2 separate regions of the Homo sapiens genome follow, and region 2 is linked to region 1. Evidence: fine-mapped expression QTL. Tissue or cell type: whole blood. Region 1 holds a variant in brackets; the other region holds the start of a gene. All regions are shown on one strand. Distances are from middle to middle.

The links. PIP is the estimated chance that this variant, and not a neighbour inherited with it, causes the effect.
Region 2: it holds the start of MRC1, and the variant in region 1 is the best candidate, but not a certain one, in a credible set for the expression of MRC1 in whole blood (INTERVAL, PIP 0.56).

What each region holds. Positions count from the first base shown.
Region 1 is chr10:17,838,480-17,845,376 of GRCh38, reverse strand. It overlaps MRC1 (mannose receptor C-type 1), which reads right to left. Exons shown (of 30, transcript NM_002438.4): 5 at 4,571-4,684; 6 at 1-88. It overlaps MIR511 (microRNA 511), which reads right to left and starts at 270; the gene lies at 184-270. The variant T/C (reference allele first, on the strand shown) is at 2,780.
Region 2 is chr10:17,805,624-17,812,520 of GRCh38, reverse strand. MRC1 (mannose receptor C-type 1) reads right to left here and starts at 3,173. Exons shown (of 30, transcript NM_002438.4): 1 at 2,995-3,173. The coding sequence starts at 3,055.

The sequences.
Region 1 (6,897 bases):
TTCTGAACACATTCCAGATTTTCCCATTTAGCATTTTTTCCAGGATTTAGTGACACACAGCTTTTTCCAGGTTCAGCTGATGGACTTCCTTCGAGGAAAAGGAAAAGTTAAAGTGGACTATTATAGCTATTCCCAGCAGATAGCATCCCTCCCACGTCTCCTCATGTCTTCATCCTGGGGATTCAATGGACCACCATTCTGTCTTTTGCTACACATTCACAAAAAAATATTTACTGACTGCAGAGCAAAAGACACGATGGGTGTCTATTGTTTTCTTATCGTTGGATCATTCCAATACTTAGAATGTTGATAAAGCAAATATACTTCTTTGAAACAACCCTTTCCCCCATTATCAGCTAATAAAGCTACACCTTAAAACTTGAACAGTTGTCACAACGGATTACATTATCAAAGAGAGGTACCTAATGAAAAGAATGCATGATTATGCCGCCATAAAAAAAAATGAAATCATCATGTCCTTTGCAGCAACATGGATGCAACTAGAGGCCATTATCCTAAGCGAATTAATGCAGAACAGAAAGCCAAATAGCCATGTTCTCACTTCTAAGTGGGAGCTAAATACCGAGTACTCATGGACACAAAGATGGCAACAACAGAAACTGGGGACTATGAGATGGGGGAGGAATGGAGGGTAACAAAGTTTGGAAAACTAGCTACTGGGTTCTATGCTCACTGCCTGGTTGATGGGATGGATCATTTATATCCCAAACCTCAGCAACATGCAATTTACCTAGGTATGTAACAACCGTGTACATGTATCTCTGAATCTACAAGTAGAATTTATTAAAAAGAAAGAATACATGATGTTCCAAACCTGCCACACTAAACATTATTAGGGCAGGGCACGGTGGCTCACGCCTGTAATCCCAGCACTTTGGGAGGCTGAGGCGGATGGATCAACTGAGGTCAGGAATTCGAGATCAGCCTGGCCAACATAATGAAACCCCATTTCTACTAAAAATACAAAAAAATCGGCCGGGGAGCTGGCGGGCACCTGTAATCCCAGCTACTTGGGAGGCTGAGGCAGGAGAATTGCTTGAACCTGGGAGGCAGAGGTTGCAGTGAGTGGAGATCACACCACTGCACTCCAGCCGGGGTGACAGAGTGAGACTCTGTCTCAAAAATAAAAATAAAAATAAATGGAGGAGAAAAAGCTAATGGGAGAGCTAGATGGGCAGCATGCTGTGCTCCCAGAACTAAAACTGTCTCAATATCTTCAACTCAGCCTACTGAAGAAGACTTTCAGCAGCTATGCCTTATCCATTTCTTAGTGGAAACTGATTAAAGAACCAGATAAAGTCAACGTTGCTAAAGGGATGAATGTAGGCATTGATACATTTCACATGCGTTTTGCTACTCTAATATATGATTTAAAAACCAGTACTCCCCAAACTAGCTTCACCTTCCACCTGAAGACAGGGTGAATGAGCCACATTCTGTTAATACCTATGCTTTGTGACCTCCAATGTGTATGTAACCTGTGCCTGAATGTCACTTCCTTTCCTGCAAGACGGAAATCATATTACCTGCTCCACAAAGTCTGGAGCAGGTAATAACCTAAATAACCTTTTTAAAGTTTTGGTGGTATTCTTTGTGTGGTAATTAAATGATTTTTTTAAAGTTTATTTAACTACCACACAAAGAAAATAATGGTTAGTAATAAGCATTAAGTTATCTTTTTTTTTTCTTTTTGAGATGGAGTTTTGCTCTGTCACTCAGGCTAGAGTCCAGTGGCGTGATCTCAGCTCACTGCAACCTCCACCTCCTGGGTTCAAGCAATTCTCTGCCTCAGCCTCCTGAGTAGCTGGGACTACAAGTGCCCACACCATGCCCAGCTAATTTTTGTATTTTTAGTATAGACGGGGTTTCACCATCTTGACCAGGCTGGTCTTGAACTCCTGACCTCGGGATCCACCCGCCTCAGCCTCCCAAAGTGCTGGTATTACAGGCGTGAGCCACTGCACCTGGCCAAAGTTATCTTAAAGTTAGTAATAAGCATAAAGTTATCATAAAGTTAGTAATAAGCATAAAGGTATCTTAAACATTTGCTGATACTGTAACTAAAATAACAGGATAACTGAACTAACAGATAAGGTATCAGCACTAAAAAGAAACTTTCAAACAAATACATTTCTAGCTCTAAGTTATTAATTGATGTGCTAATTAGTAAATCATATTACACATTTATTTATCAATACAATACCTCTCTCAACTTTGAGACATCAACTAGTGGTTTTGATGTTTACCATAGTTATTATATATTTGAATTCACACTTGTACATCATTTATGCAAAACATCCTCACTTCAAAAGTGAATATATTTTAATATTTTCATTACTTGGTAATTATTCAATTGAATGCTTGACTGAACAAATATGAAACCGATTTTTAATTTCCACAAGATCTCTAATTTTAGTTGGAAGAAACTCTCATACTATTTCGCAAGGTGATTTAATCTTGCACCTACTTCTTAGGAATTGAAGTTTAATTTTAGAAAGCATTTGCTTCCCTTTCTTAATCATATTCCACTTTCATTCTTTACTCCACCCAAAGTTAACCCGGAAGTTTTCTCCCTGAACTCGTAGGATGCAAGCGGTTAAATATAATCATCACCCCCAAGTGAATAAATTAAATGACTGCCTAATATGTATAAAAATTTAGCAACACAAAGAAGAATAAATTCTAGTCCCCTAATAAGTTTTATTGTCTAATAATCTGATTGAGGCCAACTAGTATTCTCTAATTGCATCTGGCTGAA[T/C]AGGTAGACAGACACCTAAATTTTCACGCACAAAAAAGGATATTTTATATGTATTCCCTTGCAGTAAGTCTTCCCATATTCCAGAAATTTTTACCTTCCATGTTCCAGAAAAAAATAGAACTGATTATTGGCTCAAGACTTGAGTGACAGCACTGTAACCATCATATGTTGAAGTAACGCTTTGAAACTGGAATTTCAGAGTAAAATCTAATTTATTTAAGCCAAAATATATTCTCTAAAAATTTTCTCGTGTTTTAGCATCTATTTGAAATATTATTTTATTGAAGTTTTTCTTCTTTTAATACAATAAACCAATATAGAAAATGGAGATTTTCGCCAGGCGCAGTGGCTCACGCCTGTAATCCCAGCACTCTGGGAGGTTGAGGCAGGCCACATCACTTGAGTTCAGAAGTTCGAGACTGGCCTGGCCAATGTGGGGAAATCCCATCACTACAAAAAATTAAAAAATTAGCCAGGCATGGTGGTGCATGCTTGTAATCCCAGCCTCTTAGGAGGCTGAGGCACAAGAATGACTTGAGCCAGGAAGGCTGAGGTTGCAGTGAGCTGAGACTGCGCCACTGCACTCCAGCCTGGGCAACAGAGTGAGACCCTGTCTCAAAAACAAAAACAAACAAACAAACAAAAATGGAGAGTTTAGTTTTCTAAGCCAAATGCGAAAACCACTCAATGGCTTTAAAAGAGAAGTCTGACTGTCTGAAGAACACCGTATTATAATGGTATGGCCCATAGGAGATTTGATAAGATGTGACCAATATGATACTTCTCTCCTTTCCCACACCCACGGCAGACGTCACTAATCATTAATTGCACTCTTTCCTAAAAAAAAAAAAAAAAAATGGCACTGGGGTGGGATTGAGGGGTGGGGATTGAATTTATACCCAATAGAAGGCCTCAAGTGGCTACTAACGCCAGTTGGTACTGGTGAATAAGAAAAACTTTATATCATTTTTTTGTTTTCTCTAAATAGTTGCTCAATATGTAAACTTATTTTATATTCTGTTACTTTCATGTTATGACAATGTAGAAATAATTAGTTCACAGCATTTTCTATCCTCTAAAAAAATTAGAAAGCTGTTGTAGGTTTTATCATCCCCAACTCTGTTTTTCTATAAACTACTGTTGAGAAACCTCTAATGAATTTTTATGCTAGTATGGAATATCATAAGCTGTAACTGAGATAGTATTTTTAAGCCGATGTTATTAAATCAAAAACAGGAAAAGTGGGTGTTAATGTAGATGTTAAAATCACTGTCACAAGGACAGCAATATTGCAAATACCTCATGACTCAAGGTACAGTCATAAAAAATCTCTCCAACCCAAAATAATTTCAATCCACTTGTCAAACTTTACAAAGAGATGTTGGCTAATCCTCTCAAGGATGTTGACAAAGTCAATGCAACAGCAAGTATATAGTAACAATGCAAGTAGCATATTTAGTAAATCATGTTTAAGAGTAGCCACAACATCTGCTTTTGAATATAGTACCCAACACATCAGGGATACTCTGAGAACTGAAACTTTAAACAGAGACCTTTATTGTTTTGTGTGAGAATCCTGGCAGACAAATCCCTATCCCAGGAAGCTGGTATAACCTTACAATTCAGTAAATGGAAATCTAGCATAGATTTCAAAACAAGGTGAAATGAACTGTATTTGATGAAGTCTCCCAATTCTTCTCTTTGAGATCAACAGGTGAGATAATAAACGTCTTCGGGGCGTCTAGATGACTTAAATTTGGATTAATTCGACACAAACAGGCTTAACCCTACCTGGTAACCAGTTCAAATATCGGAAAGGACTGCGGTCACTCCACTGCCAACCGCTGTTGAAGCTCAGACTGTTAAGTCCAATCCAGAGTCCTGAGGTCAAGGAACTGGTTAATCCTATATTTTTAAAGAAAGCAAAACAAACAAACAAGAACTTGGCATTCAGAAAACAGTTGAAATTAAATTCAGAACTAAGTGCTTGAATCAAAATGTCACTGAGGGAAGTAACAATAATCATGCCTACCATGTCTCCTTTGATTCTCCTGACAACCTAAGGCAAGTAAAATTATTACCTTCACTGATAGGTGGGGAAACGGAGGCAGAGGCAGCATAGGTAATCTGGTAAGATTTTTAAAGTTCCAACCCAGATCTAATGAGGCTTCAAACCCCATCATCTTGACTATTATCTACTTTCTCAAGGATAGTGTAAAGTCTTCTTGTGTGAATATGAATAGGTGTTACCTCCACTGCATATTTCAAACCTTATTCTAAGAATTTTATTTTATCATTTTTTAAAGTCAATTTCTCTTCTTCGTTAACATGATGATTAAATACTAATCACTAAGTGCTTATGCTAACACCAAGGATGCTTTGCTTAAGCAGTGAAGAAATCAAAAATACAATGTTTCCAATTCTGTTCTAGGACTGATGTGGAAGTCATAAAACCAGAAACAACACGGACCTCAGCTCTTCAGCGGTAAACACTCTAACCTATTATTACCGCTCTTTTTTTTTTTTTTTTTTGAGTTGGAGTCTTGCACTGTCGCCCAGGCTGGAGTTCAGTGGCTCAATCTCCACTCACTGCAACCTCCTCCTCTCGGGTTCAAGCGATTCTCCTGCCTCAGCCTCTCGAGTAGCTGGGATTACAGGTGACCGCCACCACGCCTGGCTAATTTTTTTTTTTTGTATTTTTAGGAGGGATGACATTTCACTATGTTGGCCAGGCTGGTCTCAAACTCCTGACCTCAGGTGATCCGCCCACCTCAGACTCCCAATATGCTGGGATTACAGGCGTGAGCCACCATACCCTGCCACCTCTATCTTTTTTGAAACCATCAATGAGAATTCTCTGTTCTGAGTTATTTTAATTGATCAAAAGCAATTAATTAAAATAAAAACTATCCTTTGGCTTTTAAAAACATTTTTTAAATTTATTTTTATTTTTTAGAGATGGAGTCTCACTATGGTGCTCAGGTTGCTCTCCAACTCCTGGGTCCAAGCGTTCCTCCTACCTCAGTCTCCTAAATAGCTGGGACTACAGGGTACACACCACTGTACTCAACAACCTTCAAAAAAATTCTTTAAAAGAATTTTCACAAATTCTTTAAAGTTGTACTAACTTAAATATAATTATCTTTCTACTTGCACAGACGTATTCTACAGGACATGCTCCTAAAAGTAGCATTTTAATACTAGCTATTCCCAAAACCAATTTACTCAGGGATTTTAAAAAACTTAATTACGAAAATAAGTGTATTTAAGTTTTAAAAATTATAAATAATTCGCTGATTAAAGAAGAACTGAAGTAGATATTGAGACTGCGTAACTAAATTACTATGTTTGGCATCATGAGAAATGATAATAGCTCTTTAAGAGAATTACCTTTTGACATCTTTTACCAGCTCTAAGTACTTATAAACTTGTCTTGAAGAACTGAATTAGTTAATACTTTTTAAAACAAGGCCTGACATATGGTATATGCCCCATAAATATAAGTTACTACTGTTATTATTACCATTATTATTATTATTATCAATAGCTTCATATTAAGGTTGGCAAAGGTGTGACTTAGAAGCAAAATTCAAATCTTGGGTTAAAATATATCTCTTAAAGCAGATGGGTGTTGTCCACAAATAATTTTCTCTAATATGCTTTTGTAATTTTATAAAAGAGCAGACCAAAATATTTTAGTATTGCTGCACAAAGCAACAATTCCACATGCTAAATTTTTGTTGTTTGTTTTGTTTCCAGACACCAACTCAAACCAGAAATTTTTTTTGTACAGTTGGGGTCTTACTGTAGTGCCCAGGCTGATCTCGAACTCCTGAACTCTAACAATCCTCCCACCTCAGCCTCCCAAGGCTCTGGGGTTACAGGCGTGAGCCACTGCGCCCAGCCTCACATGCTCAAGGCGTAACTTTTCTGCATATATTGTCTGAAATGGTTATATACCAACTTTTGAACTTAGATGTAATAGAAGATACACAAATGTCCAATATTACACTGTTTTTTTTACTTTCTTTTTTTTTTTTTAATTGAGGTCCAATGTGTTTTTCAGGCAGTACCAAAGGAAACTGGTAAAAACCATCGGGGAAACAAGCCAAATTTCA
Region 2 (6,897 bases), 33 kb after region 1:
TCAGTAGCTTGAAATCAACCATGGTGGGAATATTTACAGCATGGACATCAGTAAACAGCAAAACAGCATAAGTCAAATCAGTGCTTCCTTTCTTTTCCTTCTTGGAACCAGTAGTTGTTTGCCAATACACCACTACCTGTGAGCCAAACCCTCCCATTTCCAAGTTAAACTTCTTTGCTGTGGTCTAACCTCTGTGTCCCACCGGCTCTCATGGTGCATCTACCATGATTATAACCCAACTGAGCTGGAAACCTTGCTGCTGAGTGCTAAAAAGATAGTGCGGCAAGAACAACAGTAGGAAAGGTGAGCGTCTAGCCCTGTTAACCTCTAGACTCCTGGACCCCTCCAGGGAGAACCAGCCCATCCGTTGGCAGCAGCCCACAGAGACTTATGGTGCTAATGCTGTGGGATGCTCTCCTGAAGGTGGAAGGAAGGGGTGTGGATTGAAAAGAAATAAACTGATGGCAAGTAGGGAGACCTTCCCATGGGTTTTCCTAGTGGGCAGGAAGCCAGGGGAGAGGTGTTGGGGCTTCGCATAGTTTAACCTGCTGCTAACTAAGCAGGTGCCCTGCCTTTACACAAATTCCTCCAATCACATGCTTCTCGGGCCAAGAAAAGATAAAATAAAAGTTACAGGCTGGGTGCAGTGGCTCACATCTATCATCCTGCACTATGGGAGGCCAAAGTGGGAGGATCACCAGAGCCCAGAAGTTTGAGATCGGCCTGAGCAAGATAGTGAGACCCCATCTCTACAAAAATAAAAAAAAATAAAAAAAATTAAAAATTAGCCTGGCATAGTGGCTCAAGCCCAAAGTCCCAGCTACTGGGGAGTTGGGAGTGGGCCAAGGTGGGAGGATTGCATGAGCCCAGATGTCAAGGCTGCAGTGAGCCATGATCACACCACTGCACTCCAGCCTGGGTGACAGAGTGAAACCAGTCTCAAAAAACAAAACAACACAAATTACAGGCTTTCACGTAGGAAAAAAAAATCTGGAAGGGGGGTCCCTTGAATTTTTTGTTTGTTTATTCTCCAAGTAAACAGATCTTCAGCATCCCCCTTCTCTCCCCAATATTTGTGCCTATGAAGAGGAAGACATTAGTCAGAGGAGGGCATCCTGCTGTCAGGAAGAGGGAAACACTCCTGAGCAAACCGAGAAACACTATTGCTCAAAGCATTATTGAGTCAGTTTAAAGAAAATTAGGCACTGTGTCTGTGCTGCCCAGTATGATAGCCAGTCACCTCATGTAACCATTGTACACTTAAAATGACACTACTGTGAATTGAGACATGCTATAAGTATGCAATACTCACCAGATTTTGAAGAGTTAGTTTTAAGAAATGAATGGGAAAATATTCCAAATCGATTAAATGTTGAGGGATAATATTTCCGAGTTACTGGGTGAAATAAAATACATTAATAATATCAGGGCTGGGCGCTGTGGCTCATGCCTATAATCCCAGCACTTTGGGAGGCTGAGGAGGGCAGATCACTTGAGGTCAGGAGTTCGAGGCCAGCCTGGCCAACATGGTGAAACGTTGTCTCTACTAAAACTACAAAAATCAGCTGGGCATGGTGGTGCATGCCTGTAATCCCAGCTACTTGGGAGGCCGAGGCAGGAGAATCACTCGAACCCAGGAAGTAGAGGTTGCAGTGAGCCAAGATCATGCCACTGCACTGCAGCCTGGGCAACAAAATGAGAATCTGTCTCAAAAATAAAAATAAAATTAATTTCATCTATCCTTTTTATTTGGCCTTTTATGTACTTCTTTTCTGCCACTGATTTTAATAGCTAACACTTATAAGGCACTTACTATGGGTCATACTCTGTTCTAAACATTTCACATATTGTTACTCATTGAATCATCACAAGAACTGATGGGGGCAGGTAATATTATTCTTTCCATTTTATAGACATGGAAACTAAAGCACAAAGAAATAAAGTAGCCTGCCCAAGGTCGCAAAGCTAGTGAGTGAGAGAGACAGGATGTAAACCATACCGCCTTCACTTGTGTTTTTGTAATCACTACCACTCAATACTTATGATTTAACATTTGCGGTACTAAAACACTCTCTTCCTAGGAAACTTCCCACCCGCCTTCACATCAGTGCATAGAGTAGATCGTAGGCACAAACCATTCTCTGCAAGTGTTTGTTGATTTCATAGAATTAAAGGGGGATCAGAAATCAAAAAATCAAATTTGAAATCTCTTCTAAATCATCTCCAAATAGAACCAGGAATGAAAATCCCCCGAGGCACTCCCATCCTGAAGTTTAAGCAACTGAGTATAGAGAAATAGAAAAGACAGACTGGAAAAGGTATTTGAGAATTTGAACAACTCTGGAGCTGTTCCTAATGAGTAATCTCTAATCTCCAGAAAAAGAAGAAAAACAGGAATCGATCTGCTTATGCGGCAGTTTGAATAGTCTAGAATACAGATAAGGATGAACTTTCTAACAATCAAGTGTCTGAATGATTCTGGCAGAAAAAAAAATGAGTATGGAAATTGCTTAGAATCTCTTTTGGGGGGATGATCTGCGATGATACCCTCGGACCTAAGACGCGGGGAGACATCAGGGCTGCCCTCCTTCCAGCCAGAGACACTCAGAAGGTGTTTGTTGGCGGTGAGACAGAAATAGTGTGAATTGAAAACCAGAAAGAGTAAACCACAGAGCAGGAAATTTCTGCACGAAGAAAACAGGGAAGGAACAACGAGCGATGAGAGAAGTCAGGAGGACACTGAAGGTCTGTAGGGTTCCCGGCAGGGCAGCAACCGAGACCTGAGACGCATCCTCCTCCCTCCTCCAACTCCAGGCCTCCCATGCCTGGCCGCCAGGTGAAGGCAGCAGGCTTAGCCGTGGACTGCGTGGTGCAGGGGAACCCCGTTTCCTCCTCACAAAGATGTTGAAAGGAACCCATTCACAGTAACCCAGAAGAGGAAGGTGTGGTTCCGGCCCCCCAGGTCAGAGATCCCCTGCCTCAGAGCAGACTTACCCAGTAGGAGAACAGCACCCGGAATGACAGAGGCAAAAACCAGGAGCAGGGGTAGCCTCATGGCCCAGGGTTTATCCTTTCCTTCTCCTGATGGACAGGAGGGCGGAACTAAGACGCAAAACAACGAGGCCCCCCAACTGCCTCTCCACCTAATCCAAGTTCCCAGAGCTGCCCAGCTGAAAAGAACTACAGAGGAAGCCCTCCCTTTTAAAGGGCTCCTGAATTTAGGGAAAGCCTCTACTGAGGAGACATCCTGTCACATGAGGGTGGCTGGAAAAACAGGAATTCAAAGTAACAACTTTGCTTCGTAAGCTAACTTCTGAGAAGAGCAGACGCAGAGGAAGGGGAGAAAGGGACACGTGTGGGAGAGGAGTGGCGGGGTGGGGAGGAGAGAGGGCGATGGTGATGGTGAGGAGTCAGGAAGGAGAGAAGTGAAACAGCCTGGGAGCTCCCGGCCTGCTCAGATGGGGCTGGGTGGAGATCAAGCTGCAGGCCATTACCTGTGCCGGAAGACGGAGCTTCCCCTGGGAAGCAGCTGAGTCAGGGGTCCCTCAGCAGACAACCTCCACTCTGAAGTGACAGCCACACGGGCCCTGGAAAGGACAGTTTTACGCTGGAAACACTTCAGAGTTGAAGCTCATCCCCTTCAGTTTCCACATTCAGTGCTTAGAGCCTTTCTTTTTTTTCTTGGAAAGTTTCAACAGAAAGTTCCGTGGAGCTTCATTTCCTCCAGGCAGAAGAAAAGTGAAAAGGAGGCTACACCTAAGAGGGAATGTCAGTCAGGCCAGGAAGGAGAAAGTTCTAGAAACCTTTTGCTAGAACGTTCTCTAGAAAGCCAGAAAAAACAGTGGTAAAGGATTTGCAGTAAAGCCTTGCTGCCCAGCCTCAACCATCCCGGTCCTCTTCAAGTTTAAGTGGGTCCCCTTGCTAGAAAAAGAAAATCTGGCCAGGCACAATGGCTCACGCCTGCAATCCCAGCAGTTTGGGAGGCCGAGGCAGTCAGATCACCCGAGGTCAGGAGTTTGAAACCAGCCTGGTCAACATGGCAAAAACCCGTCTCTACTAAAAATACAAAAGTTAGCCGGGTGTGATCATGCACACCTGTAAGCCCAGCTACTCAGGAGGCTGAGGCAACAGAATCGTTTGAACCTGGGAAGTGGAAGTTACAGTGAGTCAGGATCGCACCACTACACTCCAGCCTGGGCGACAGACGCGAAACTCCATCTCAAAAAAAAAAAAGAAAAGAAAAAAAAGAAAAAGAAAATCTGATTGTTTGGTCAAAAGGTATATCTTTATTTAAAGGCAAGTGGAATTCTTTCTTAGAATAAAATATGTTTCTAGATCTTTCATTAAGCAGAAAATAACCCTCCAAACATTTATGTTGTCATTTTTCAAAAGTAGAACAGGAATTTAGAACATTTTAAAGCAGAAACTAACGATTAGCTGGCCAAACCGTTACTAGAGTGTGGAATATGTTAGTAATTCAAAAAGAAGCTACTGGAAACATTGTAATTTTTAAAATTTTTTAAATGAATAGTTTTATCTTCAAACGGAAAGCCTCCACATTCGTTGTCTTTGTGATAAAGTTGAAAAGTTTCCATCCTATTAGAAATGTGATGTAGTTCTCTTACTGATTGTTTTTAACATGTAAATTTGAGATTATCCTGACCGGAGGGAAAAAGATAGTGAAAATGTAGGACAGAGGACCAAAGTTTCTTTGTCACTAAGGCTGTACATGACTGAAAAAAAAAATGATGGTTATAGAACAGAACAGACAAAACAAAAATGTTTCTCAGACATTGTTTCACTGGCTTATGAAAATAATAGTTTAAATGGGTCATTTGTGGCTTTCAAATATAAATAAATCATATACAAAAGTGACTGCCTAATTTACATTTATATATATTTCAGAAGCAAATACATTTAATTGAATTATGTATATAATCACATTCAGGGTTGGTTTGTTTCTTTGAGACAGAGTCTTGCTCTGTCGCCCAGGCTGGAGTGCAGTGGTGCAATCTGGGCTCACTGCAACCTCCACCTCCCGGGTTCAAGCGATTCTCCTACCTCAGCCTCCCAAGTGGCTGGGATTACAGGCGCGTGCCATGATGCCCAGCTATTTTTTGCATTTTTAGTATAGACGGGGTTTCACCATGTTGGCCAGGCTGGTCTCAAACCCCTGACCTCAAGTGATCCGCCCGCCTTGGCCTCTGAAAGTGCTGGGATTACAGACGTGTGCCACCATACCTGGCCCAGGGTTTGTTTTTTAATTACATAAGTGTGTATATCACATTAGTAAAATTAAAAATTAGGATCAGTACTAAAATCTGTGAAGTTTAAACAAAATGCAGCCAACCACCCCACAAAGAATTTACCCCATGACCTTGACCTCGTTGAAACAAAGATTTATCAGGCTACAAGAGGCCACTGGGGCAAAAAATAAATCCAAATCTTGGGGAAGGGATGTCACAGAAGATGGTGGTGTGGGAAACTCCAGGAATTCATCCCTCCATCTAAGCAGCCATCAAATGGACAGGAACTGACTGAAGTAACTGCAGGTGCTCCTCTACTCATGATCAAATTAGGCCCTGTTAAACCCAATGTGAGTTGAAATATGCTAAGTCAAAAATGCACTTAATACACCTGACCTACCAAACATCACGGCTCAGCGTAGCCTACCTTAAACGTGTTGAGAACACTTACATTAGCTTCCAACTGGGCAAAATTGATAGGGACAGGAGGCAGAGAAGTGCTAGGTAGAGAAGGGCAGGATCCCTGGCGAGGGCTCCACCCTCGGACCTGTGCCCACGGACCTAAGTGGGAACAGGCACTCCTGTTTTCATGCGCAAATGTTACATTTCCAAGACCACTATGATTCACCACACCCCGCATCCTGTGCCCATAAAAACCTGAGACCTTAATGGGCATAGACACAAGCGCTAAACATTGAGAAGAGTGAAGGAATAGAGCAGTGGAGAGCAGTGGGGTGGCGCAGCAGAGAAAGAGAGAAGAAGGACATCTGGACACCAAGGGGAGTTTGGCCAGCAGTGGTTGGAGAATAGTCTGGGGGGTTAGGCAGCCTGGCTCCAGGGGAAGACCACCTTCCCACTCCACTCCCCACTTCCAGTTCCCCATCCATCTCGCTGAGAGCCACCTACACCACTCAATAAAACCTTGCACTCAACCCTCCAGCCCACATGTGATCTGATTCTTCCAGTACACTGGGCAAGAACTCAGGCTGTCACACTGCCTCCCTGTCCTTGTGATAAGGCAGAGGGTCTATTGAGCTGACTAACACAAGCTGTCTGCAGATGGTATAGCTGAAAGAGCACACTGTAACACACGCCCACTTGGGCTTCAGGAGTCCTAGATGCTGCCGTGGGGTGGAGCCCAAAAGCACTCCCCACAGCCTCTGCACCTGCCCATCTGCATGCTGCATGCTCCCCCCTAGGGGTTTGAGCAGCAGGGCACCAAAGGAGCAAGCCTCATTCCTGTCGCACCCCCTGCGAGGGTCATAAGGGAACTCTTCTATTTCAAAATCATCTAACAAAACCTATTTTATAATACAGTGTTGAGTATCTCGTAATTTATTGGATATGGTACTAAAAGTGAGAAGCAGAATGGGTGTATGGGTATTCGAAATACATTTTCTACTGAATGCACCATTTCTATTTCACATCATCATAAAGTGGGTAAATCATTATGTCTAACAATCCTAAGTCAAGGACCATCTGTATTTGGGAACTAGTCTAGTCAGAAACTTGGAGCATCCAAGGGAGAGCTTGATAAAGAGGCTGGTACATTTCAGCGAATTTCAGCTTCTCCCTGTGGTTATGGCTGTGTCAGGCAGCTGTGAAGGGGGAAGCAGCCCACACGCCCAGTGCAGCTAGGTGAGGCCAGGCC